Regions from separate parts of the Homo sapiens genome. Here all the other regions are linked to region 5. Evidence: fine-mapped expression QTL. A gene starts in region 5. Each other region holds a variant in brackets. All regions are shown on one strand. Distances are from middle to middle. Region 1 overlaps AHRR (aryl hydrocarbon receptor repressor). Region 2 overlaps SLC9A3 (solute carrier family 9 member A3). Region 3 overlaps AHRR (aryl hydrocarbon receptor repressor). Region 4 overlaps AHRR (aryl hydrocarbon receptor repressor). Region 5 holds the start of SLC9A3-AS1 (SLC9A3 antisense RNA 1). Region 6 overlaps SLC9A3 (solute carrier family 9 member A3).

Region 1 (4,084 bases), 120 kb before region 5:
GTTTCAGACTTACAGCTTGCACGTGTCAGCTCACTCATAAATGCAAACACCTTAGAAAAATAAGGAACTTCTTGACAAAAGAGACCCAAACCCCTGGAAACAGCAGGCTCACTCCTGTATGTGCCAAGGTCCCAGGAAGGGTTAGTGTGGAAAGTCAGGTGGCCTCGTTCCTGTGGTCCTGCCAGTAACTGGCCCCTGCTCAGTCTCCCCATGCATTCCCAGTGGACTCCATACTGGCTGCCATCTTTTCTTTCGCATGATTGCATGTGGAAATGATATCTAGAACGAGATGGCAGTTGAAGTGGCTTCAGTGCAGTGATGGTTAAATAGGTCAGCTGTAGGGGACAGTCACTGTGAGGTTAAATGGGTTAGCCGTAGGGGATGGTCACTCTGAGGTTAAATAGGTCAGCTGTAGGGGACGGTCACTGTGAGGTTAAATGGGTCAGCTGTAGGGGATGGTCACTCTGAGGTTAAATGGGTCAGCTGTAGGGGACGGTCACTGTGAGGTTAAATGGGTCAGCTGTAGGGGATGGTCACTCTGAGGTTAAATGGGTCAGCTGTAGGGGATGGTCACTGTGAGGTTAAATGGGTCAGCTGTAGGGGATGGTCACTCTGAGGTTAAATAGGTCAGCTGTAGGGGATGGTCACTGTGAGGTTAAATGGGTCAGCTGTAGGGGATGGTCACTCTGAGGTTAAATAGGTCAGCTGTAGGGGATGGTCACTCTGAGTTTAAATGGGTCAGCTGTAGGGGATGGTCACTCTGAGGTTAAATAGGTCAGCTGTAGGGGACGGTCACTGTGAGGTTAAATGGGTCAGCTGTAGGGGATGGTCACTGTGAGGTTAAATGGGTCAGCTGTAGGGGATGGTCACTGTGAGGTTAAATGGGTCAGCTGTAGGGGATGGTCACTGTGAGGTTAAATGGGTCAGCCGTAGGGGATGGTCACTCTGAGGTTAAATGGGTCAGCCGTAGGGGACGGTCACTGTGAGGTTAAATGGGTCAGCTGTAGGGGATGGTCACTGTGAGGTTAAATGGGTCAGCCGTAGGGGACGGTCACTCTGAGGTTAAATGGGTCAGCTGTAGGGGATGGTCACTCTGAGGTGAGAGGGTCACGCCAAGCTCCTGTCATTTTAAGGTAGGTTGGGTGAGAGGGGTCAGCTCCCTCCCTCTCTGGGCTCTGTGGTGTGGAAGCCCCACAGGTGGCCCCTTTTTGTGGGTAGAGCAGGCCTGCTCTGGCTTATTAGGAGAATTGGGTGATGGCCCTCACTGCCCCTTTGTGGGGCCCCAGAGTGGCAGGCACCTGGTCTCATTTGCCCTGGGTACTCTCCCCTCAGCCCCAGCATGTACAGGAGAAACCAAGCTCGGAGCGGCCTTGGGCACGGCCCGGCTGATGCCAGGAGGACCTTTTCATGTTTCCTGGAATGTGTTAGGTTTTGTTTAGACACCGAGGAGTCCCCTAAGGATGCTGAATGAATGTGGCATTTTCTATGCTCACTCCTGCCCCGCCAGCCTGGGGCCAGGCGTCCTCCTCCCTCCTCAGGGATCCGTAGTGGAGAGGTGGAGAAATGTGCCTGTCCCGCAGCTGGGGGCCGTGCCCTGTCTCCGTGCTCTGAGCTGCGGTTCTCCGGCTGGTTTGCTTCTTCTCTCTACATCCCCTCCAGATACTGAGCTGTGCTTGGCTGTTGTGCGCTGTGGTTTTTAGTGTCTATGTCTTGAGGCATGGGTGAGCTTTAGTCCTCTTCCCGTCTTTTGTCCTGGCAGCAGCGTAGATGCTCCTAGTAAGGTCACTGCAGAGGACGGTTTCCGCCCCAGGGGGCCTGTGGCTTCTGGTGGAGAAGCCCACCTGACCCAGACCATCTCCCCACAGGAGGCCCGCCGTGGGGGCAGAGAAGTCCAACCCCTCCAAGCGACACCGGGACCGCCTCAACGCCGAGTTGGACCACCTGGCCAGCCTGCTGCCGTTCCCGCCTGACATCATCTCCAAGCTGGACAAGCTTTCTGTCCTGCGCCTCAGTGTCAGTTACCTCCGGGTGAAGAGCTTCTTCCAAGGTAGGACTCTCACCTGCTCCCACCTGTTCACTTGAGTCAGGCTGTGTCTCCCCTGAGTCCATCTGGGGCCTTGTGGCCAGGTGAAGTGTGTCTGGTGGGTTGCACCATGTGCACTCCCTTCTTCCCCCACGCTGCCCCCAGAACCTGGAGACTTGGCCCCTGGATGGGAGCTGGCTGGGCTGTGGATTTTCCCTGGGGCCAGGTCTGGCCCTAGCTGTCCTCGACACTCTCAGGGTGGGGGCCTCACCTCAGTTTGCTGGGATGGGCCAGTTTGCGCCTGGGGTCCTGGGTTTGCTGAAGCTGCGCAGCTGCTGAGGGAGGGGCTGGGGCTGTTCCTCCCCGTGCTGGGCCTCACTGGGGCTTCCCCACAGACCCCGGCTCCAGGGAATGAGGGATCGGCTTTGTGGATGAGCAGGGCTGGGCATGGTCAGGAGGCTGAGGCAGCTGACTAGGTGGGACCCGGGGGCTGCCCTGGGGTGCCGGGCGCCTCCCCCTGCCCACGCCAGGCCGTGCC[C/T]GGACACAGCTGCTGGGGCTGCCCTCTCGTGGGGAGGGGCTTCTGGGGCTCCTGCATCTCAGGTGGGGCCTCCCCAGGCCTGTGCCCTGTCTGTCCTTGGAAGCATGGCGTTTCCTTAGATTTCAGGTTATTGCTGCCCTGGGAGCTGGGATCGCTCCAGAGAACTCGCAGGTGTAGACCGTGGGGCCTTTGCTGTTGCGGGAGGGTGGGAGAGAAGCTGCTTTCAGCTTCTGTGTTGGGTGACGTGCCTGCACGTGGTTTGATTGCAGCACTTTTAGAATTAAAAACCCCGTGACCAGCAGCATGTGGCAGTTGTGCCCGGTGCCTGCACTCCTGAGTTTGAGTCAGGGTGGGGGCCTCCCCTGGGCGGGGGGCGTCTGTCTCAGGGTGCAAGAGGCTGTCAGTGCCTGGGCCCCTGCAGACCTCTGCGCACCCTCAGACACCCCCAGGGAAGGACGTGGCCCATGGGCTGCGGGAAGGAAAGTCACGGTGATGCCCAGCATCACGCGCCGTGTCCTGCCAGTGCCGGCCCCACACTGAGGGTCTTCCCCGGGTCCCGGCTGGCCGCAGCCTCCATGGAAATCAAATCCCACAAAATGTTAACAGAGCTTATCTGAGTGGTGAGGTCACAGCAAGTTTTAGTTTTACATTCCAGGTTTTCTAATTTTATGTTGAAAACTATTAATTTTATATTTATCTCTGTTCCCAGCCTGGGCCTCCTGGTGCCCAGGGCTGCTGGGTGGTGTTGGACTCAGTTTACCTGAGAGACCTGGGGTTTGCCGTATGTGCAGGATGGCAGCTTTTCCAGGAGGGTTAAGATGTGGTGCAGTTGGTGTGGTCTGGTGTGGTGGAGTGGGCACCACCCTGCATGCACCTGGGCATGGGCACCAGCATGGAATTGAGGGCAGGCTCCCAGGTTTGCCTTCTGGGACACGCCTTTCATGGATGGCGCAGTGCGGCTCAGCAGCGCCAATGGCAGAGGGCAGTCCCCGTGTCTGGACAGCGCAGGAAGGGCTGGGGCAGCCGGCAGGGAGGCTTTGTCCCGAGCTGAAGACCTGTCACATCGGCTTCCTCCCACCGACACCGCACAGCCTCACCCTCTCGCTGGGAGGTTGGAGGAGAGGCCAGGTCATTTCCTCTCCGCACAGGTCCCACTGTGTCCAGCCAGGCCAGGGCTTGACGGCCTCAGAAAGTCTTCGATTCTGGTGTTTCCAGCAAGTTTGGACACCTGGCTCTTCTTAAACTGCCAGCGAGTGAGCTTCCCATCCTGCTGCCTGCCCCAAGCCGGGGCAATGGCACTGGATGGCCATCCTGTGCAGGGGCACCCTGCGTGCCTCCTGCTGCCCTGCTGGGAGGTGCCCACCTCTGCCGCAGCTGCAGTGACTCTCAGGGGCCACCGGCTTACGAGAGTGCTGCAGCTTTCAGGAATAAACTTCCTGATTTTTCTACCAAGGATTGTGAATTTTGTGATCCCCTTCAGGCTGTACATTTTAGAGGAAATTCTAAAAACTTTTCTGAAGTCA
Region 2 (4,084 bases), 32 kb after region 5:
AAATCCTGCCTGTGGGCACGGCACAGTCAGACTGCTGAAAATCAAAAACAAATGGAGAATCTTTCCATCTGTATAATGTGTGTGAGTTACCAATAAAGAACTTTCTTCTTGTTCCATGAAATGGGCAAGGAAGGCGTGTCTGCTGGAAATCTCATCCACGGCTGTGGTTTCTCCTGAATCGGCGAATCGTCTGCGCGAGGCTGGGGCCTCTGGACAGAAGACTGGGCCCCCAGAGCTCTTGGGGGGTTCCCATCTTCACCCGGTGCCTGGATTCTCAGGGTCCCACCCACCCCCACCTTCCTCACACTTCACCCTCTCTTCTCTCTTGCCCTTATAAAATCATTCACTTCAAAGTAGAAATTATGAAACCGTCTTCATCAATCACGGAAGTTTAGCATTCCCCGTGTTTTTGCCTTTGGTTTATCAACAACTAAACAAGGGAAGGGAACAAGCTTCTGCAGAAGCTTCCAGCAAGGAGACAGCGTCCTATATGAGGCGCCTGGGGAGGGAAGGTGCCGGAAGGCATCGCTGTGGGGCTGCCGCCAGCTCCGGAACCCCCGGGAACCCAAGGGGCACACGTCTCCCCGTGTTCTTGCAGCCCCCGCGTCCCGTGACCCACCCAGGAGGTGTGACCTGCCCTCCTTGCTTCAGGCTCCCCTCTGTAAAGTGAGGAAATAGCCCCCCGGGGCTGCAGCCAGGGCCCAGGGCGGTGGACATGCAGGGTCCAGGACTGGCTGAACCTTGAGCCGCTGCAGGGGCCGTTGGATTTGGCCCTCGGGAGAGAACTCCACAGCCTCCTCCAGTGTGTCCGGCGGCGGCAGCCAGGGAGGGTGCCGGGACCTTCAGACCACACAGCAAGCGGCCAGATCTCAGGCTCCCCGGGCTCACGGCCCCGCTGCCTCCTCCTGTCACCCCCGGGTGAGCCCAGAGGGCTCGGGGTGGGGACAGCAGACAAACCCTCAGCTGCTGGGCAGTGCCTCCCTCTGGGGCCATGGGCACCGGGACCTGCACCCCTCAGCGCTGTGAGGCCACTGTCTCTAAACGTGGGGGCTGAAGGGGAAGGGGTGTTCGTGCCCAGCTCCTGGCCGGCCACCGACATGGCCCCTTCATGGGGGCCGGGCCAGAGGCTCAGAAGGGGAGGGCAGGGGTGCGGCTGGTTGAGTGGCATACAGCGGGGGCTCACACCTCGGCTAGCAAAGTGGCTCCCAGACCCGGACGCCTGTGCCTGGAAGAGCAGCAGACGCCTGCAGGGCACAGTGGCCACGTGGGCGCCACACAGAGCCCAGTGCTGAGAAGCAGGGGCCAGCAGCTGCCACCCCTCCCCTGCTTTCCCTGTGCAAATGGGAAAAGGCCTCAGAACAGCGTGGACGCAGTGACCCCTTTAACAGAATGAGGGGATGGAATCCCGGGTGGCTGGAGACCTGGACAAATGAGAAACAGCATCCTCCTCCATTTTTAGCTTCAGAGGCTCTTAAGGGAGGGAGGCTGCTGTGGGAGGAGCATCTGGATGTGTGCTGGGGGGTGACCATCGAGGGGGGTGGGGGAGAGTGACCATGGGGGGGGGAGAGTGACTGTGGGGGGGTGGGGAGTGACCACGGGGTGAAGAGTGACTGTAGGAGGGTGGGGAGTGACCACGGAGAGGGGAGAGTGACTGTAGGGGGGTGGGGAGTGACCATGGAAGGGGGAGAGTGACTGTTGGGGGGTGGGGAGTGACCGCGGGGTGAAGAGTGACTGTAGGAGGGTGGGGAGTGACCATGGAAGGGGGAGAGTGACTGTTGGGGGGTGGAGAGTGACCACAGAGGGGAGAGTGACTGTGGGGGGGTGGGGAGTGACCACGGGGGGAGAGTGACTGGGGGGGTGGGGTGGGGAGTGACCACGGAGGTGAGAGTGACTGTGGGGGGGTGGGGAGTGACCATGGAAGGGGGAGAGTGACTGTGGGGGGTGGAGAGTGACCACAGAGGGGAGAGTGACTGTGGGGGGGTGGGGAGTGACCACGGGGGGAGAGTGACTGGGGGGTGGGGTGGAGAGTGACCACGGAGAGGGGAGAGTGACTGTGGGGGGGTGGGGAGTGACCAAGGTGGGGAGAGTGGCTGTGGGGGGTGGGTGGGGAGTGACCATGTGGGGGGAGAGTGACCATTGTGGGGGTGGGGAAAGTGGCCATGTTGGGAGGGGAGTGACTACCACGGAGATGAAATTAATGTGAACCACTGAGGCAAAGGCATGAGGCCCCCTCACTTTGGGGTGGGGTTAGGGTTGGGGTGCAGGTGGAGCCTCTGAAAGGCTTTGAGGAGTTTGCAAATGCCCTGCAGGGGAGCAACTTCAGGTCTCGCTGACCTTTATCCCTCAGGAGAGGATCTCCAGTGAGGCTGTGCTCTCCGGGAATTCTTTTGTGCAGGTAGACGGTGAGGGCAGCTTCCCAAGCCTGTTAACTGCACCTGTGCCTGCTCACGTGGCCACAGCCGCCACTATCAAGGAGCTCTGGGTCCTGCCCGC[G/A]AAGCCAGGACTTTGTCACGAGCTTTGCCCGGACGCAGCAGCCGGAAGCGGTTGGGAGGATTGATTCTTGATATTGATGCCACCCAGAGAGGACAAAGGTGGAAAGACACACGAAAGGGGCCCGAGACGGGGGCTGGAGACGCGCGGAACCCGGGCTGCGGAGAGGGTGCTGGGGTGCGCGGCAGGGCCAGGGCAGCCCGCACAGGGCGCATTCTCACGCGAGGTGTGCCCCGTGTCTCCATCATTTGCCCCAAATGCAGGAGGGCCCGGGGTCCTCCCGAGGGGCCCCATGCTGCTCCCTGTCCTGTGGGGCCACCCTGCCAAGCGGGGCACCACTCCAGAGCTGGGACAGCAGCAAACCAGAGCCAGACCCCACAGGTTCCCCACCTTCTGGGCGCTGCTCCCAGGGACCTGTCTGGCCACTTCCCAGCAGGCTGTTTTAACCCGTGCAGAGCTGGTTTCCTATGATAATCTCGACTTTTCTGGGCAGTTGTAAAGACTGAAAATCAGACTCCTTCAGAGAGAGTGGGTTGACTTTGTTCTCAAACCCAAGGAAAACGAAGGATAAAACGTGTTATTTATTATCCTTGTTTTAAAGTTATTGGGGGCCGGGCGCGGTGGCTCACGCCTGTAATCTCAGCACTTTGGGAGGCCAAGGTGGGTGGATCACAAGGTCATGAGATCGAGACCAGCCTGGCCAATATGGAGAAACAAAACAAAAAAAAAATACAAAATACAAAAATTAGCCAGGAGTGGTGGCAGACACCTGTAGTCCCAGCTACTCGGGAGGCTGAGGCAGGAGAATCGCTTGAACCCGGGAGGTGGAGATTGTGGTGAGCCGAGATCGAGATTGGGCCACTGCACTCCAGCCTGGGAGACAGAGTGATACTGTCTCAAAAAATAAATAAATAAATAAATAAATAAATAAATAAATAAATAAATAAAGTTATTGGGTCAGGTAAGAAGGAGGGATCCGGCTGCTGCTTCTTTTTTTTTTTTTTTTTTTTGAGACGGAGTCTGGCTCTGTTGCCCAGGCTGGAGTGCGGTGGCGCGATCTGGGCTCACTGCAAGCTCCGCTCCCGGGTTCACGCCATTCTCCTGCCTCAGCCTCCCGAGTAGCTGGGACTACAGGCGCCCGCCACCACGCCCAGCTAATTTTTTGTATTTTTAGTAGAGACGGGGTTTCACCGTTTTTTTTTTCTTAAATAGTGTCTAGCTCTGTTGCCCAGGCGAGCACCACCAGGCCTGGCTAATTTTACTATTTTTTGTAGAGATTTTTTTCACCATGTTGCCCATGCTGGTCTAAAACTCTTGGGCTCATGTGATCCTCCAGCCGCGGCTTCCCAAAGTGCTGGGATTACAGGTGTGAGCCACCGCGCCCATTCTGGGGGGATCCAAAGACACTGGCACCCCATCCTCAACCCCCAACACCCCAATCCCTGCCCCACAGACGCCCGAATCCCCACCCCACAGTCGACACCCGAATCCCCACAGACGCCCGAATCCCCACCCCGCAGACGCCCGAATCTCCACCCCGCAGACGCCCGAATCCCCACCCCACAGACGCCCGAATCCCCACCCCACAGACGCC
Region 3 (4,084 bases), 61 kb before region 5:
CTGTGTATCTCTCAGTTTATTCAGGTATTTTCTCAGTGATGTTGCTTTGTTTTCAATATACCAGTCGTGCACATCTTTTATTAGATTTATTCCTAGGTATTTTATGTTTTTTGATTGGAGCCTGGAGTTTTCTTTGTAGGAAAGTTTTGATTAGAAATTCAATTTATTTAGTATAAGGTTATTTAGATTTTCTAGTTCTTCTTATATCACTTTTGTTAATTTGCATATTTCAAGGAATTTTCCTGTTTCACTTAAATTGTTTAATGTATTGACTATCACTTTTAGTATTTTCTTATTATCCTTTTAATATTTGTAGGACCTGTAGTGATGTACTTTTAAACTCCTGGTGTCAGTGATTTGTTTTTTTTTTCTTGATGAGTCTTGCTAGCAGATTATCCGTTTTATTAATCTTTTCAAAATTTTCAAAAATTCAAATTTTGACTCTGTTAATGGCCTTTATTATTTGACTGTTCTAAACCATTTTCATGGATTTTTGACTCTTACCTTTATTTTTTCTTTCCTTTTACTTACCTTAGATTTAACTGACTCTTCTCTCTCCAGTTTCTTGAGGAGGGACTACATACATACTTTTGAAACAGTCATTTTAAGCTCACTGGCATTTGATGCTGACCCTTCTGCTTGTGTGTAATTGGAGGTTTATTACACTTCCTGTGTCCTCATTATGATGCAATTTTGGGTCTGTGTAGCTGCACCTGTTCTTACCATTCTCCGTCATTTTGTGGAATGTTGTGGGGGATTTGGATTTAGGTAACTGCCATTATCCTTGGCTGCCTAGGAGTCTTCAATACCAGTATTTCAAAAGCTCTTAGAAATTGATACTTATAAACCCTAATAGAAAAATTAGCACATGACATACATAGGGCAGTTTTCCAAAGAAGAAATACAAGTTACCAGTGAATGCAGGAAATGTTTTTCAATGTCATTAGTAATCAAAGAAATGAAAACTATAATGGTAAAATAATTTATCTCTTTTCAGAAATAATATATCTGTTTTCAAATTGGCAAAGATTTCAAAAAAAGAAAAAAGGAAAATAAAAGTACCCAGCATGGTCCAGATTTAAGGGAAATTAGTATATAGTATACTGCTGACAGCCACAAACATCATGGGAGTTAAAGTCTCCGAATGTCTGTGTTTTAAAGACACAAATGGAAACATTTATGAAAGCTGTGTCCAGGTGACTCAGCCCCCTCACCCCCAGCTTCTACCTCGTGTGGGATGTGAGACTGGGCGAGATATTCCACCTGGTAGCCTGTGCTTGCTCAGCGTCAGTGGCCATTGCTGCCATGGACAGATCCTGCGACTCAGAGGCCACCGTCTTTCGCGCATCCTCACCGGTGATGGCCCCGGGAAGCTGCTGCAGGGTGGGGCTGCGAGGCTCGCTGCTCAAATAAAGGAAAACGCCACATCAAGCACAACACAGCCACATCCTTGCCTTCTCCATCTGCTCCCTCCAAAATCCCACGATGATTACGGCTGTGACTAGGATTTAATAATCATGCAAATATTGTGAATAACATACACGAATGAATTTAACATCAAGATGAAATGAATTTCTAGAAAATATTTTAAGATGCCATAGTTAATGTAAAAAAAATAAATAACTTGCACACACGAACAATAAATAAATCAACATAGTATTAAAATCTGCCCTGTTTCATCCACCATCTCCACAAAATGTGCCCGCACTAGAGGGTCTTCAGGGTGAGGCGGACCAGGCCTTCCAGAAGCACGTCACCCTCATCTTAAGCAGCTCCAGAAAATGGAAGGAAAGGAGCAGGAGTGACTCGTGTCTTGATGGTTGTGTATACTGTATGCAAAATATGGAGAGAAACTACAGGCCAAGTTTAAACATAGATGGTTAAGTGAGGTTAATCAATTCCAAGGCATATTAAAAAGTCATGAT[C/T]AAAGGGGCTTACCACATGAAGTACAAGAATGATGCATCATCAGAAAATCTATCAATCACACACTAAAGAAAAACTGTGATTCTTTCAGCAGATACAGAAAAACACTTGATGAGTTCAACATTTTTCTCTCTCTCTCTTTTTTTTTTTTTTTTTTTTTCTGAGACAGAGTCTCACTCCATTGCATAGGCTGGAGGGCAGTGGTGCGACCTCGGCTCGCTGCAACCTCCACCTCCTGGGTTCAAGCGATTCTCCTGCCTCAGCCTTCCAAGTAGCTGGGACTACAGTCGCACACCACCACACCCGGCTAATTTTTGTATTTTTAGTAGAGACAGGGTTTCACCATGTTAGCCAGGCTGGTCAATGGACTTCAATATTTTTCATAATAAAAATCCTTAGAAAAGCCAAAGGATATCCCAGACAGTGTGTAGGAGGAGGTACGTGGGCAGAAACGTCTGCAGAGGAAAACAGAGAGCTCCTGCCTCGTCTTAGGTACCAAGTCTCACTGTCGCGTCAAGACAAGGTGCACATAATTTTATATTTATTAGAAAAGGGGCCTTGTAAACCATGGCTGCCTTCTCATGTTGCCTGTTAACTTGGAGCCTGTGACAAAATGGTAATAAATAAAAAGTGGGCATTTCTAGAGGTTATGAATATGGACTACAAAACAGGAGGAAATTGTTGAAAATTTAAGCAAAGGATTCTTGCACTTTTTCATTTTGGGTGAGCCAATTCGATTTTTTTTTTTGTTTTGTTTTTTCTTCTAGTCTCTTAATGGCTTTGCTCTGGTCGTGAGTGCAGAAGGGACGATATTTTATGCATCAGCAACGATCGTGGACTATCTGGGCTTCCATCAGGTAAATGAAACCAGAATAGCCCTCCAGTCTGTTAAGTGCTATGTTGTCTTCCCTTTGTAAATGTTTGTTGTCGTCAAGGTTTGATAATGTGTAAAATCAGGCTTTTCCTATCACTGAGCTCTTATCAGATAAAGATCTCCACACCCCAGCTTTGTCTAGGGCAGTGTTTCTTCCAGCCTGGGTTCGGGGTCTCGGCAAGAGGCTTCTCAGTGTTAGGGGTGTTCTGGTCTAAGGCAGCCGTGGCGTGCGGACGGCAGCATGGTCTCCTCTGGCTCAGGCACTCCGCTAGGTCCCCTGCCCCACCAGCACCATCCCATTCAGCCGCTCCCAGGCAACGTCTTAAGCCTCAGCTTCTTGGTGCACTCAGGACACAGCTTGTTGTGGAAATGCCCTTCCTGACGTGCGAGTGGTTCATTTGGAATGCTGCCCAGCCAGCCCCAGGTGGATGACTCCAGACTTCCAGGCAGAGAATGGGGTTGAGGCCTCGTCAGATACCAAGCCCTGGAAGGGCAACTCACCCGGGAAAAGGTGCAATAAAAAATCCCACCCAGCCGGGCGCGGTGGCTCACGCCTGTAATCCCAGCACTTTGGGAGGCCGAGGCGGGTGGATCACGAGGTCAGGAGATTGAGACCAGGCTGGCCAACATGGTGAAACCCTGTCTCTACTAAAAATACAAAAATTAGCTGGGTGTGGTGGCGTGCACCCGTAGTCCCAGCTACTAGGGAGGCTGAGGCAGGAGAATAGCGTGAACCTGGGAGGTGTAGGTTGCAGTGAGGTGAGATCGAGTCACTGCACTCCAGCCTGGGTGACAGAGCGAGACTCCATCTCAAAAATAAAAATAAAAAATAAAAAAATCCCACTCAAGGCCAGGAGGGGAGCAACGGAGCTGTTTTTTTTGTCTGGGGAGGAGCTGGGGTCCCTCATGGAAAATCAGATGCTGGTTGTAGAATTAAGATTTCTCCCATTGCACGGCGAGGACCCCCAGGATCTGGAAATCAGGCGTACTGCAGACTGATAGATTTCTGGAGAACCCAAAGAAGCAAAAATGGGGCCCTTTATCTGCACTTCCACAAGCCACTCCCACAAAAATACCCGCCCTGCAAATGAGCTCACAATGCAAGTTATAAACCCAAGGAAGCCATAGATGGTGAGCAGGAGCCAGCTGACAGGTAAACAAACCGTGCTTCCTGGAAGAACTTAAGGAGCAAAGCCGTCCAAAGGAAACTGGCAAACAAATAGATTTAAAACAATAAAAGATAACAGCAGCAATATAAAGAAAGCACAGCATATGATGAAAAAAGAA
Region 4 (4,084 bases), 35 kb before region 5:
CCGTGTGGACGCCCTCTCTGTTGTTGGCCCGCGGGTGAGGGACCCACCACCCCTAGGGACCCACCACCCCGCCGCACTGTGCATTCTGCCTCCTGTGTGGACGCCCTCTCTGTTGTCAGTGGCTTTGAGGTGTCAGTGCTTACTTAGATGCTGGTTTAATGCTGGACCCATTTGTTAAACGCACCTTCACTTTGTCAAAACCCAGGTTTGGTTGGCAGGACTGGGTCTTCTGCCCAATGCCAGGTGCCTGCGCCTCTCAGTGGCCTGGTTCTTGGACAGTTTGCCCCCATGTGGCAGGGATAGGGATAAGGATCTCCTCTCAGTACTGGAAGAGAACAGCCAACCATCTGAGCCCAGAGTCACAGATCCATCGTGGCCCCCTATGACCCCCAAGCCCTACCGAGGGGGCACTCACTCTCTGCTTAGCCAGGGGGCGTCTTTCAAAAGGTGACCTCCATGCTGTGCTGTCGTGGGTGTGAGACGTGCTCATGGCCTTCCACTGCCATCTCTCCCTTATCTGATGCCTAAAGTCACGATGGGGACAGAGCTACCCAGGGGCCAGCCATGGGGTGACCAGCCACCTGAGGGTCAGTCACCTGTGGAGAGCAGGCACCTGTGAAGACCAGGCACCTGAGGACTGGCGCCTACTTCCCACTTTGGCCCTACACTGGCACAGAGCCCCTCTTTATTCATTTCTCATGCTGAGCATGGCACACTTCTGGCCTCTGGGCATTTATGGATTTAAGACCAGGATGGTATTTCAGAAGCTTCCCACTTCCTTCCTATTCTAACCGAGTGCCCAGCTCCTTTGCTGATCATGGAAAGACCCTTAATAATTAGGCCTGCAGGCCAGGCGCAGTGGCTCATGCCTATAATCCCAGCACTTTAGGAGGTCAAGGTAGGAGGATCGCTTAAGCCCAGGAGTTCAAGACCAGCCTGGGCAACACAGGAAGAATGTGTCTCTACAAAAAATAATTAAAAATCAGATCTGCTGTATCCCTGAAAAAGTCTCAATCAACATGCATGTTCCACTCTTGGAGTTCCCTGTTCTGAGGGCCAGCCACGTCCTGTGTCCTGGAGCTTAGCCCTCAGCAGCTCCCTTCAGCCTGGGCGCCGCCTGGGTCCCAAACGTGGCAGCTGCTCTTCCAGTCTCGGGGCCGAGGAGGGCAGGGAGCTCAGTGACTGAGAGTCTTGTGTATCACATGTCTTGAGTGTCCTGGAGCCAACGGCTGTCACTGGGAAAAACACCAGGCCCCAAAGATCGAATCAGAGACGTGGCTGCGTGTTTGCGATTGTAGCCAGGCCCTTCAGTGTCATCAAAGGAGCACTGGGGCCTCCTTAAGCACAGACGGCAGCCCCTGCCCAGGAGGCTTCTTCACCACGTCCTGCCCTGCAGCCTCCCAGACCTTTAGATGCGCCCCTGCCCAAGGCCCTCCTGGTGACAGGTGCCAGATTGAGTGGTGGGTTGCTGCCAGGCAGGCCACGCTGTGTTGACGCTGCACTCAGCACGTGGGTGTTGGCTCTGCCGGTTTTGTGGTGTGGGGACCCTACAGGAGGCTGCGGCCCTGAGAGCCTGGGATCAGCGAGGTGTCCGACATCCCTTCCTCAACGGCAACAAAAACTCCCCAAGTCAGCACTTTGGTTATTTTATAGCCACAACCCTCTTGGAAAACAGTGGGGAAGACTATGGAACATAGAAAGTGTGGATGTATCACTTCTCTCTAAAATGTCATTGTTAGCACTAATTACAGGTTCATGTTTTTCTGTGTATGTAGCTTTTCCCTATATAGCTGAAAAAGTATTAAAGTCAAATATAAGGTGGGAATGGGATGGAAGGGAGGAGATCAATACAACTTATATTTTTGCAGTTTCTACTGGAAGAAAAAAGTTTTCAATACCTAGACCAACTTGTTGAATTTTTAAAACTTATGCACTATAAATGCAACTTTCTCTACTGCTTTCTCAGTGCCTTTAGGAAGCTTTCAAATTTTTTTGTACTGTGGTTTGTATTAAATTTGCAATATTGATGTAAAATACATGACATGCTAGTACATGTTTAACAAAAATTTAAATGTTTGCGGAAGTCTGCGTGATTTTCCAAAGTCACTTTATTTCCTTTAAAGAGTGTGCTGGTTAATCTACATTCTAAGACAGCCTTTCACCACTAAATATAAGGCAGCAATAAAAATAAAAACTCTAGAGCCGCAAGCCTCGTGAAGGAGGAGAAAA[T/C]GCCTGCCATCTCCCTGCTCCTGACCAGTGGCATCTAGAGAGGGCCTAGGCCCCCCTCCCCTGTCACTGAGGGTCAGGGCCCCTCCTGGGTGCTCTCAGGACGTCCCAGACCTGACCCGTCCTGTAAGAAGTGAGGAGGGTAGAGCTGAGGGCACTGTGGGTCCGGGGCCATGCGGGGTCCACCCTGCCTGGCACAGGGCCTGCACGACAAGCCCATGGGAAGGGGGAAGGGCCCAGGCAGATTACGGCCAGACCCCTCAATGCCATCGAAAAAAGTGCTGGGGTCTCCTTAAGCACAAACGGCAGTCCAAGGCCCAGGGAGCTGCGCTTTTGTTTCCTTTCAGGCATCTTTAGAGCCTGCGCAGCCCCTGCCAGGCCTCCTTCGCACCCTGCAGCCCATCAGCAAACCCGTCCTGGTCACTCGTGTAAGACTCCCGTGTCCTCCCCCAGGACCAGGCCAGCCCTCCCATCTGTGGCCCCACAACTTGACCCACCCTGCCCCCCATGCCCTCTCCTCTGTGGCCTCAGGCAGATGGAGTTCCCGCATTTTCACTCCTCACCCCCAGTCTGGCTTCTGCTGAGTGTGCCTGTGTGGAGTTGGAACGCATACAATTCTTTTTTCTTTTCTTTTCTTTTTTTTTCCTGAGATGGAGTCTCACTCTGCTGCCTAGGCTGGAGTGCAGTGGTGCAGTCTCGGCTCACTGCAGCCTCCACTTCTCAGGTTTAAGTGATTCTCCCACCTCAGCCTCCAGAGTAGCTGGGACTACAGGCATCCACCACCACGCCCAGCTAATTTTTGTATTTTTAGTAGAGACTGGGTTTCACCTTGTTGGCCTGGCTGGTCTAAAACTCCTGGCCTCACATGATCAGCCTACCTCGGCCTCCCAAAATGCTGGAATTACAGATGTGAGCCACCACGCCCAGCTGGACGCACACAATTTCATCTCACCAGGCGCTGCCCAGCGTCCTCCAGAGGGGCTGCACCCACTTGGCCTCCCTTCTACCAGCCACACCTCCTGGGCTCCCATCCTCACCCCACACTGGCACCTGTGTGGACAGACTTTTTCAGTCTTGGGCTTCTGAAGGGATGAAACGGCAGCTGTTTTATGTGCATTTTGTTTATTCATTCGGCATATTTTTAGTCCTTGTTGAGTATCAGGCCCTGCACCAGTGCTGGGGACGCATTCAGGAGAAAACGATGCAGACATCAGTGCTGTCCCAGAGCTGGCGTCTGAACATGTGTGATGTGCGGTGTGTGCGTGTGCAGGGGGAAGGGGTGCAGGCAGCTGAACGTGACCATGAGAACCCCGTAAACTCTGCGGGGCATGGAGGGGACCGGTGCTTTGCAGGTGCACAGAGCTGGGGCTGGGGGTGGCCCAGGTCTTTGGGGGCAGTTTTATGCAGGACGTATGGACGGCTGGAGCTGAATAGCGAGTGGGGGAGGCTGCATGGCCGCAGTGAGGTCTGGCTGACAATAGAGCAGGGCCTGGGTCATGGCTCATGGTCTGGTCAGGTCAACGGACACCCTAGTCATGGCTCAGAGGCTTCAGCAGGGCCCCGTGGGGAGGGTGTGGGGACAAGGTCTCCCTGAAGGCCGAGGGAAGCAGCTTATTCCCCGGAGCCAGTGGCTCTTGTCCTTTACCCGTTTCTTGCTGCACTTGTTTGCCCTTTTAGATCAATTTGCAGGAGTTCTGTTTTTATTCTGGATAGCAATTTTCTTGTCAGTTACAGATGCTGACAATGTTTTCCCTCAGTCTGTGGCTTGGCTTTTCACTTAAGGATTTAAAAATTATATCCCACAAGAGTTTAAGATTTTAATATAGCAACTTTTCTATTTTATTCTTTATGGCTTATG
Region 5 (4,069 bases):
ACCTCCCAGCAGTTCAGATGGGACAAACTGGGGGCCTGTCAGAACAGCCACTTGTGCCGGGAAGGCCAGGCCCCGGCCTGCTCCGATGAACGTCAGGACGGTGGCTGCAGCAGGGAACCAGGGCTGGCCTTGGATCTGTCCAGTAGGGTCACTGACTGGGCAGGGCTTGCTGCATAGAGGATGGCTGCATTTTGTGCTCAGAGTTGGTTGAAATGGCTACGAAGTGTGGAGAATAACCACTGAATCCCAAAAAGTCACTGCGCTTGATCTGATCCAAGTAACAGTGACTGCAGTTAGGGTCGAGAGCTTCTCCGAAGCAGCGGTCATGCAGGCTTTTGTGTGGCTGACGCTTCCCTTTTTCACAACAGTAAAAAGCTATCAATGGGAAATTGTGGACTTTTCCCACCAGGGACTCAATGGGGACTCAATGTGCAATATTCAGTCAACATAAAACTCTTTAAGAACTCCTCCTGACTGGTGACTGTCAACACTTGATCTGAAACGTGAATAGTTTAATTTTCCTGAGCAAGGAGCTGCGAGTCTAGCTTTAGAAAAGCCCCTAGGAGTGTCCACCTCCACCACTTCCACCGTGCAGGCAGGTTTCAGGTGGGTTGGACCCTGTGGGACTTGCCGTCTGAGGGATGGATGGACTCCGAGCACCCTCCCCGGCTCAGCACCCGCGGCCTCCGCCCACTCAATGGACTGTGCCTCCCAGAGCTTGGGCTGGATGGTCTCCCTGCAGAGGACCAGGAGCTCTGTCCAAGGCCTCGCCCTGGGACGCTGGAAGGGGTGGGAAGGGTCAGGGGTCCGGGGTCTAGGACAGGCTCAGGGGTCTCAGCAGGTTCTCCTTGGAGGGCCTGAGCCTGGTAGGGGGGCGGTGCCCTGGGCCCCTCCATGCCCCCTGGTTTGTTAAGGGGGACAGAGCAGCTGCTGGGCCCCACCATCCACTTAAGGACTGGCCGTGATTCTTGGCAAGCTCCGCCCGCCAGGCCACCTCTCACCCAGCCAGGGCACCCCGGGCGACCTCCGCGCCAGGTGCGACAGCTCAGGCCGGAGACCTCGTCTGTGGGGACGGGCCGTGTCCGGGGCCGCCACCCTGAGACCGGGCGCGGGCAGGACGGAACCTGGGGGGGAAACGGGGCAGGTACTGGCTTTAGGAGTCTAAATCCCCAAACGCTGAGCAGACGGAAGACGTTCCTGCCACTTTACCTGCAGTTCAAAGACCTGGCGAGGGCCTGGAAACGGCGCTCGGCCCAGGCCGCTTGCGGGCGCTGGGCCTGCAGCCGCTGCAGGTCGGGCCCTGAGTCCTGGCGCTCGGGAGGTCCCTGAGTCGGTCCCCGAGTCAGTCCCCGGGCGCGGGGCTCGGTTGGGGGGGCCCGGAACCTTGGGCTGGTTTCACGCAAATCCGTTTGGGGCGAGCCTCGGTTTCCCGGCAGCGGTGGGAAAGGGCGCGAGCGGCCAGCCATGGCGCGCGGACCCTTCCCGCCGGCGGCGTCACAGCGGCGTCTCCTCCTGCTCCAGCGCGTGCGGCGGTGCGTGGCACGAGGGCGGCAGCGACGCCAGCTTCAGCAGCGCGGGGCGGCGGCGCGCGCGAGGCCGCTGGAACGAGCGCCGGCTGTGCACGCGGCGCGCCGCCGCCGAACGCGCGTGCGCACTCGGCAGCCCTCGGCGCTCCGGCCCCGCCCCCGGCGCAGGCCCCGCCCCCGGCTCGCCCTCGGGCGGCTCTGCGGGCGCAGGCGCGGCACTCTCGGAGTTCTGCGCAGGCGCTGGCGTGGGCGAGGCGGGGCTCGGGGCTCGCGGTCGCTGTAGCCGCGCGGGGATCTGGGGTTTCTCTGGGACAGCGGCGGCGGCGGTGGGCGGACCGTGGCGCGGGGACGAGCGGCCGGTTAGCGGCGTGTCGGAGCCGGTGTCACCTGCGGGAGAGGAAGGCGTGAGCGGCGCGCGGAGCCCGGGCGCTGGGGCGGGAGGGGCGTCCCCGGGGGCCTCAGCTGTCCCCGAGCCCGGCGGCTCTCGCCTCCCCTCCCGCGGCGCACCCCAGGCTCGGCGTCCGCTGGGGCCTCCTCCCAGGACCCGGGTTCGCGGGGCAGAGGCGGAAGCAGCAACAGCGAAGCCCCAGCCCGGCCCCGCCACGTCCCCCCGCCGGGGGTCCCGGGACAGCGGCCTCCTCGGCGCAGGAAGGTCCCGCCCCAGGCCCTGCAGCGCGGGAGGTCAAGGTCCCCAAGGGGACCTGCTTCCTCCATCTCAAACCGCCCTGGCGTCCCCCGGGTGCCTCCCAGGCCCCCAGAGGGAGCTCAGAAAGCCCAGACCCCACGGCCCGCCCCTCTCCCTGCTCTGAGCTGGAGGCAGAGTCCGGGTCTGCGGGGCCGGCCCTCCCTGTATCCCTGTGAGAGGGTCGGGGACCCGGGGCGTCTGTCTGGCTTCCCCCAGCCCTGCTCTCAGCTCCCTGGGAGCGCAGGATTTGGACTCGCGGACTAGCTTTCGGAGCCACCTAAAGGAAATCTCAGGCGGCCCTAGTGCCCTCAGCTCCGTGGGAGCAGCAGAGACGCCAGAGTATCTCTGTCCGGGCTCCTGAGGGAGGTGCGGCCAGCAGGGCGCTAGAGGAGGAAGAGGGGCTGCTGGAGAGAGAGAGCGCGCCAGGTTCAGGTCCAGGGAGGAGAGAGAGCGAGCGCGCGAGGCGGAGACCTGGAGGGAGAGGAGCTGCGGAGAGGGGTTAGGCGGGGAGGGAGAGAGAGAACCAGGTTCCGGTCCAGGGAGGAGAGAGACAGCGCGCGCGAGGCGGAGACCTGGAGGAGAGGAGCTGCGGAGAGGGGTTAGGCGGGGAGAGAGAGAGAGCGAGCCAGGTTCAGGTCCAGGGAGGAGAGAGACAGCGCGCGCGAGGCGGAGACCTGGAGGGAGAGGAGCTGCGGAGAGGGGTTAGGCGGGGAGGGAGAGAGAGAACCAGGTTCAGGTCCAGGGAGGAGAGAGACAGCGCGCGCGAGGCGGAGACCTGGAGGAGAGGAGCTGCGGAGAGGGGTTAGGCGGGGAGAGAGAGAGAGCGAGCCAGGTTCAGGTCCAGGGAGGAGAGAGACAGCGCGCGCGAGGCGGAGACCTGGAGGGAGAGGAGCTGCGGAGAGGGGTTAGGCGGGGAGGGAGAGAGCCAGGTTCAGGTCCAGGGAGGAGAGAGACAGCGCGCGCGAGGCGGAGACCTGGAGGGAGAGGAGCTGCGGAGAGGGGTTAGGCGGGGAGAGAGAGAGCGAGCCAGGTTCAGGTCCAGGGAGGAGAGAGACAGCGCGCGCGAGGCGGAGACCTGGAGGGAGAGGAGCTGCGGAGAGGGGTTAGGCGGGGAGGGAGAGAGACAGCGCGCGCGAGGCGGAGACCTGGAGGGAGAGGAGCTGCGGAGAGGGGTTAGGCGGCGGGAGGCCCGGGAGCGTTACATGTGTGTGGACTCGGGGAGGGCGGCGGGGGGCCGCTCCTCGGGGCCGTCTGCCTGCAGGAAGGAGTCCACGGACTTGCTGCTGAGGCGGAAGGGCATCAGGCGGCAGAAGGTGCCGGGAGAGTAGGGAATCTGCGTGCGGGCCCTCTGCGAGGGGACCACCGTCTCCCCGGGAGACAGCCAGGGCGGCAGCCTGGCCAGGAGGCTGCGGTCCAGGGCCTCGTCCGGAGAAAACACAGGGTTGTCAATTCCTAGGAGAGAGGGCAGCGGCTAGTCAGCCTTCGGAGAGCCCCACGGCGGCAGGGGAGACCTCGCCGGGGCCGTCACCTGCTGGGTGCCTTGGAAAGTTAGGGTCACCGGGAAGGTTAGGGTCACGTGCCTTTCAGGTTGCGGGCCCTTCCCCCACATCCATGACCCCACACGCCACAGGCAGCACAGGTAACGTCTCGCTTCCCTCAAGACATACCCCACCTGCTCCCTGCCCGGCCCACGTCTCCCCGGACAGCAGCCTCCGAGTTGGTTGAGGGGGCACTCAGTGGGTGCCAAGCAGGGCCCTTGAGAACCCACAGGAGACCCCACCCCCCCAGGTCCCAGTGCCCCTGGTCCAATGACCGAGCTCCCTCCTGGGGCGGCAGGAGCCACCCCTCCCTTAGCCAC
Region 6 (4,084 bases), 45 kb after region 5:
TGTCTTTGGTCCTTGGTGCCCAGGAGTGCTGCCCCATGGGATATTTGGGTCTCATTTGAAGTGGGATCCCCACTGCCTACAGGGCGTGATGGGCACTGAATGTTTATTGAATGAATATTAAACTGGAGAGAGCTCCTCCATTGCCCAGAGCGCTGGCTGCTGCAAAGTCCAGCATTTTGGGCTACCTCGATAAGACGGATGAGACCATTCAAGCTCCTAAAAGTGGTTGGTATGCTAAGGGTATTGGCTGCCTGTGACCCGAGTTCTATTCTGTGTCCCAGGAGGGTGCCAGGTTGGGCAGTTCCAGCACCAAGTCAGGGCCTGCCCAGGGTGTGTCTGCATCTTCCGAGGTCTGGCAACATCAGGATGGGGCTGGGTTTGTCTGTCTTATTCCAGAAGGCATATAGCTAAGGCATAGCTAAGATTTCAGCTGACAGTGGAGCATGTTTTAGGCCAGGTGAGCGTGGTTTCTCTCTGGGCACATGACCCACTCCTGAGAGAGCTCTGTGTGGGGCAGATGGTGCTCACCATGCTGAGCCCAGATCTGCCAAAGTGCTCTGAGCCGATGCTGCAATTGCTTGTCAATGATCCCACTTTGCAGGTTAAGTCTGCCACTCCTTGGCAGGCGGCGCCTCTAAAGCCATTGTCATCCAGAAGTAGGTGTGCTGCTCACTGGAGGCTCTGCAGTAATTTAAGGAAATAATTCAGCCGAGGAGCTGAGACAGCCTCTTCCTGGGCCCAGTGTCCAGATGGTTTTGGATGAAGCTTACACATGGGAAGCCAATGTTTATCCCTCCACTCCTTCACTCTCCCATGTGTGCATTCATCCATCCATTTGTCCATCCACTCATTCGTTCATTCCTCCTTCACCCACCTGTGGGTGCATCCATCCATCCACTCATCCATCCATCCATCCATCCACATATCTACCCATCCTTCCGCCCATCCCTCCATTTACTCATCCATTCACCCATCCACTCACTCATCCATCCATCAATCCACTCATCCATCCACCAACCATTCACGCATCAGCCATCCATCCATCTGTCCATTCACTCACTCACTCATTCATCCATCCATTCACTCATCCACCTATCCACTCATCCATATATCCATTCATTCACTCATCCATCCATGAGTTCACTCACCCACCCATCCATCAATCCACTCATCCATCCATCCATTCACTTATCCATATATCCATTCATTCATCCATCCATCCATCAATCCACCCATCCAACTATTCACTCATCCATTCATCCAAGCCATCTATCCATCCACTCATCCATCCATCAGTCCACTCATCCATCCAGCTATCCATTCACTCATCCATCCATCAATCCACTCATCCATCCATTCACCCATCCATCCATTCACCCATCCACCTATCCATCCATCCACTCACTCACCCATCTATCAATCCACTCATCCATCTATCCATTCACTCATTCATATATCCATTCATTCATCCATCTATCCATCCATCCATCCATCCACCCATCCATCCATTCACCCAAGCCATCCAGCCATCCACCCATCCATCCATTCACCCATCCATCCATCCATCCACCCATCCATCCACTCGTCCATTCACCGAAACCATCCATCCATCCAAACCATCCATCCATCCATCCATCCATCCACTCATCCACCCATCTGACCATTCACTCATCCATCCATCCATCCACTTATCCATCCATCCACCCATCATCCATCCATCCATCCATTCACTCCATTCATCCATTCGCTCATCCACCCTTCCATCCATTTACTCATCCATTCATCCATTCATCAATCCACGCATCCATCCATCTATCTATTCACTCATCCATCCATCCATCCACATGTCCATTCACGTGCTCAGATCTGCAGGACTCTGCTGGGGACAGGCACTGGGGACACAGGAGGAATAAGACAGACAACCTCTGCCATTGTGGCATCAACCTGGTTGAGCCAAAAGACCTTGGAGGAGGAGGTGTCCTCAGGAGCTCAGAGGAGGAAGGCTCCGAGCTCAGGAAAGGTGGAGCAGGAGAGATGCTGAGTGTGAAGGGATGAAGCTGGGGTGAGTGCATGATTTGGGGGAGGGTGGAGTCTGGCATCCCAGGACCTGGTACCCTGAGAC[C/T]TGGCACCCTGAGACCTGATACCCTGAGATCTAGCACCCTGAGATATGGCACTTCGCGACCGGGCACCCTGAGGCCTGGCACTTGGAGATCTGGCATCCTGAGACCTGGCACCCTGAGACCTGGTACCCCAACACCTGGTACCCAGAAACCTGGCACGCCAACACCTGGCACCCTGACACCTGGTATCCTGAGACTCTTGTCTCAAGGGTGGGTGAGGAAAGCCTTGGTGGCTTCATCGTGCACTGAGACTCCTGGTTGTGGGACTCAGCCCAGACGCTGGGCAGATGATGTGCAGGATGGGAACCCCAACTCTAAACATGCCCCAGTGCAGCCCCTGGCTCCTGGAGAAGCCGGCAGTGGGGGTGGCCACGCTGGGAGAGCTCAGCCATTTCTGCAGTAGACATGAGGCTGGTTGGGTGCTGGAGCTTGGGCCCAGACAGGCATCTTAACAAGCCTGTGTGGTCACAGGGAGCGCCACACACGCCCAGAGGCGGGGAGCTCCTGGGGTGGCAGGGAGTGGGCTGGGGGGGCTGGCGGCCAAGAGTGACTCACCATCCCTGTCTCTCTCTCAGCCTCTGGCGGAGCTGCCAGGTACCCACAGGGAGCCCTGGTGGTTCCTTCCCTGCCCCGATGCTATCAGCACTTCCCAACCTTTGCCCCTTTCCTCAGGATTCTCCCGGGCGACACCTTAGCTCCAAACGCCATGGATTGTTTTATAGCCTACAGCTGATTCTCCGTGGGCAGCTCCTGGAAAATGAAACTTCACCCCTTCAGGGCCAGACCCTCCCCTGTGGAGACTCCTGGGAGAGTCTTTGCTTCCAGGCCTCCCGTGATGGCTCCTGACTCCAAACCCACTGAGCATACCTCTCCTGCCAGGACTGGGGTCCACAGGGCCCACTCACTGGTCCTCTCCTGGGAGGACTGGGTCCCCTGGGGACTTTGCTGACCACCCTGGCCTTCTAGGCCATCCTTGTCCCCAGAACCTCCTTTCCTATGCTTCTTCAAGGAGAACCTAAGGGCAGTTCAGCTGGAGTGGGTAGCAGATATGGTGAAGGGGTAGGTGCTGTGCGCATTGAGGGATTCCTGCCTCCAGGACCAGAGCACATGCAATAAAACCATTCACCCCAGGAGGTGAAGGTGACCCACAGCTGCCCTCACAGCCTGGGCACTGAGTGCCCGGTGGAAGGCTGCACCTGGGAGAAATCCACAGCTTAGGCAGGTGGTCTAGGCAGTGTCACACCCCCAGTGGCGGAGGCTCCCTGGGACACGCTGGGTAAGACAGCGGGGGTCCGGGAGTCAAGTGTCGGGTGAGGACGACCTCCTGCACCCACCCAGACAACAAGGAAGCACCCAGTGCCTCAGATTTGGGGCCGGGAGCAGGGAACCTGGCGCTCAGGGATCTGGGTCTTGACCCTGTCCAGTTAAGGAGGAGGTGCTGGAACCCCAAGGCTGAAGCTCCTGCAGAAAAGCATTCCCACACTCCCACAGTGGGGGTAACGCCGCTCAGAGGGGGGTGGGGGGGCTGCGCCGCTCAGAGCAGGGGGCTGCACTCCTGACCCTGTGCCCTAGCGTCCTCCTGACCCTCCTACGGCTGCGCGAGGCACTGCAGACTCCAGATACCCGTCTCGCTCCTGCCTGCCCTTCCAGCCAGGGTTCACCAAGATGTGGGGCGGCCTGGGCCTCCGCCATCACATCCCTCAGCAACACAAGCTCCACTTCGAGAGCCTGCCCCCACCGCCCCCACCCAGCCCCACTGTCCTGGTTTCCCCGTGGGCAGTCACTGCCGCTGCTCAGGTCCTAACCCTCAAGGCGCCACCTCCCTGAGCCAGCGCTGCCCAGCTCTGGAGTTCAGGCCCCATGGGATGTCAGCTCCCACACCTCCTGTGCGTCCACGACCCAAGGGGTACCCACGGCCAGACGCCTGGGGACAAATAGACCCAGCTGGGCCTAGAATCCACTCC

The links.
Region 1: its variant is fine-mapped to the expression of SLC9A3-AS1 in whole blood (TOPMed, PIP above 0.99).
Region 2: its variant is fine-mapped to the expression of SLC9A3-AS1 in whole blood (TOPMed, PIP above 0.99).
Region 3: its variant is fine-mapped to the expression of SLC9A3-AS1 in regulatory T cells (Bossini-Castillo 2019, PIP 0.95).
Region 4: its variant is fine-mapped to the expression of SLC9A3-AS1 in minor salivary gland (GTEx, PIP above 0.99).
Region 6: its variant is fine-mapped to the expression of SLC9A3-AS1 in lung (TOPMed, PIP 0.95).

Annotation. Positions count from the first base shown.
Region 1 is chr5:351,865-355,948 of GRCh38, forward strand. It overlaps AHRR (aryl hydrocarbon receptor repressor), which reads left to right. Exons shown (of 11, transcript NM_001377236.1): 3 at 1,866-2,047. PDCD6-AHRR (PDCD6-AHRR readthrough (NMD candidate)) reads left to right here. Exons shown (of 13, transcript NR_165163.2): 5 at 1,866-2,047. Among named protein-coding and RNA genes, the nearest start is that of AHRR, 32 kb to the left of the region's middle. RefSeq lists an enhancer at 1-11. The variant C/T (reference allele first, on the strand shown) is at 2,562.
Region 2 is chr5:503,687-507,770 of GRCh38, forward strand. All of the region lies in intron 1 of SLC9A3 (solute carrier family 9 member A3), which reads right to left. Among named protein-coding and RNA genes, the nearest start is that of SLC9A3, 19 kb to the right of the region's middle. The variant G/A (reference allele first, on the strand shown) is at 2,494.
Region 3 is chr5:410,654-414,737 of GRCh38, forward strand. It overlaps AHRR (aryl hydrocarbon receptor repressor), which reads left to right. Exons shown (of 11, transcript NM_001377236.1): 5 at 2,691-2,780. It overlaps PDCD6-AHRR (PDCD6-AHRR readthrough (NMD candidate)), which reads left to right. Exons shown (of 13, transcript NR_165163.2): 7 at 2,691-2,780. Among named protein-coding and RNA genes, the nearest start is that of EXOC3-AS1, 30 kb to the right of the region's middle. RefSeq lists enhancers at 90-259, 508-677, 1,259-1,428, 2,686-3,186, 2,934-3,533 and 2 more and a cis regulatory region at 1,344. The variant C/T (reference allele first, on the strand shown) is at 1,926.
Region 4 is chr5:436,220-440,303 of GRCh38, forward strand. It overlaps AHRR (aryl hydrocarbon receptor repressor), which reads left to right. Exons shown (of 11, transcript NM_001377236.1): 11 at 1-2,066. It overlaps PDCD6-AHRR (PDCD6-AHRR readthrough (NMD candidate)), which reads left to right. Exons shown (of 13, transcript NR_165163.2): 13 at 1-2,066. Among named protein-coding and RNA genes, the nearest start is that of EXOC3-AS1, 4.9 kb to the right of the region's middle. The variant T/C (reference allele first, on the strand shown) is at 2,230.
Region 5 is chr5:471,470-475,538 of GRCh38, forward strand. SLC9A3-AS1 (SLC9A3 antisense RNA 1) reads left to right here and starts at 1,767. Exons shown (of 7, transcript NR_125375.1): 1 at 1,767-1,930; 2 at 3,668-3,850. It overlaps SLC9A3 (solute carrier family 9 member A3), which reads right to left. Exons shown (of 17, transcript NM_004174.4): 16 at 3,414-3,663; 17 at 1-1,913. The coding sequence ends at 1,910. SLC9A3-OT1 (SLC9A3 3' UTR overlapping transcript 1) reads right to left here and starts at 1,496. Exons shown (of 2, transcript NR_024158.1): 1 at 1,210-1,496; 2 at 1-496. RefSeq lists enhancers at 448-1,090, 1,091-1,731, 3,659-4,069 and silencers at 975-1,104, 1,465-1,534, 1,655-2,474.
Region 6 is chr5:516,197-520,280 of GRCh38, forward strand. All of the region lies in intron 1 of SLC9A3 (solute carrier family 9 member A3), which reads right to left. Among named protein-coding and RNA genes, the nearest start is that of SLC9A3, 6.2 kb to the right of the region's middle. The variant C/T (reference allele first, on the strand shown) is at 2,123.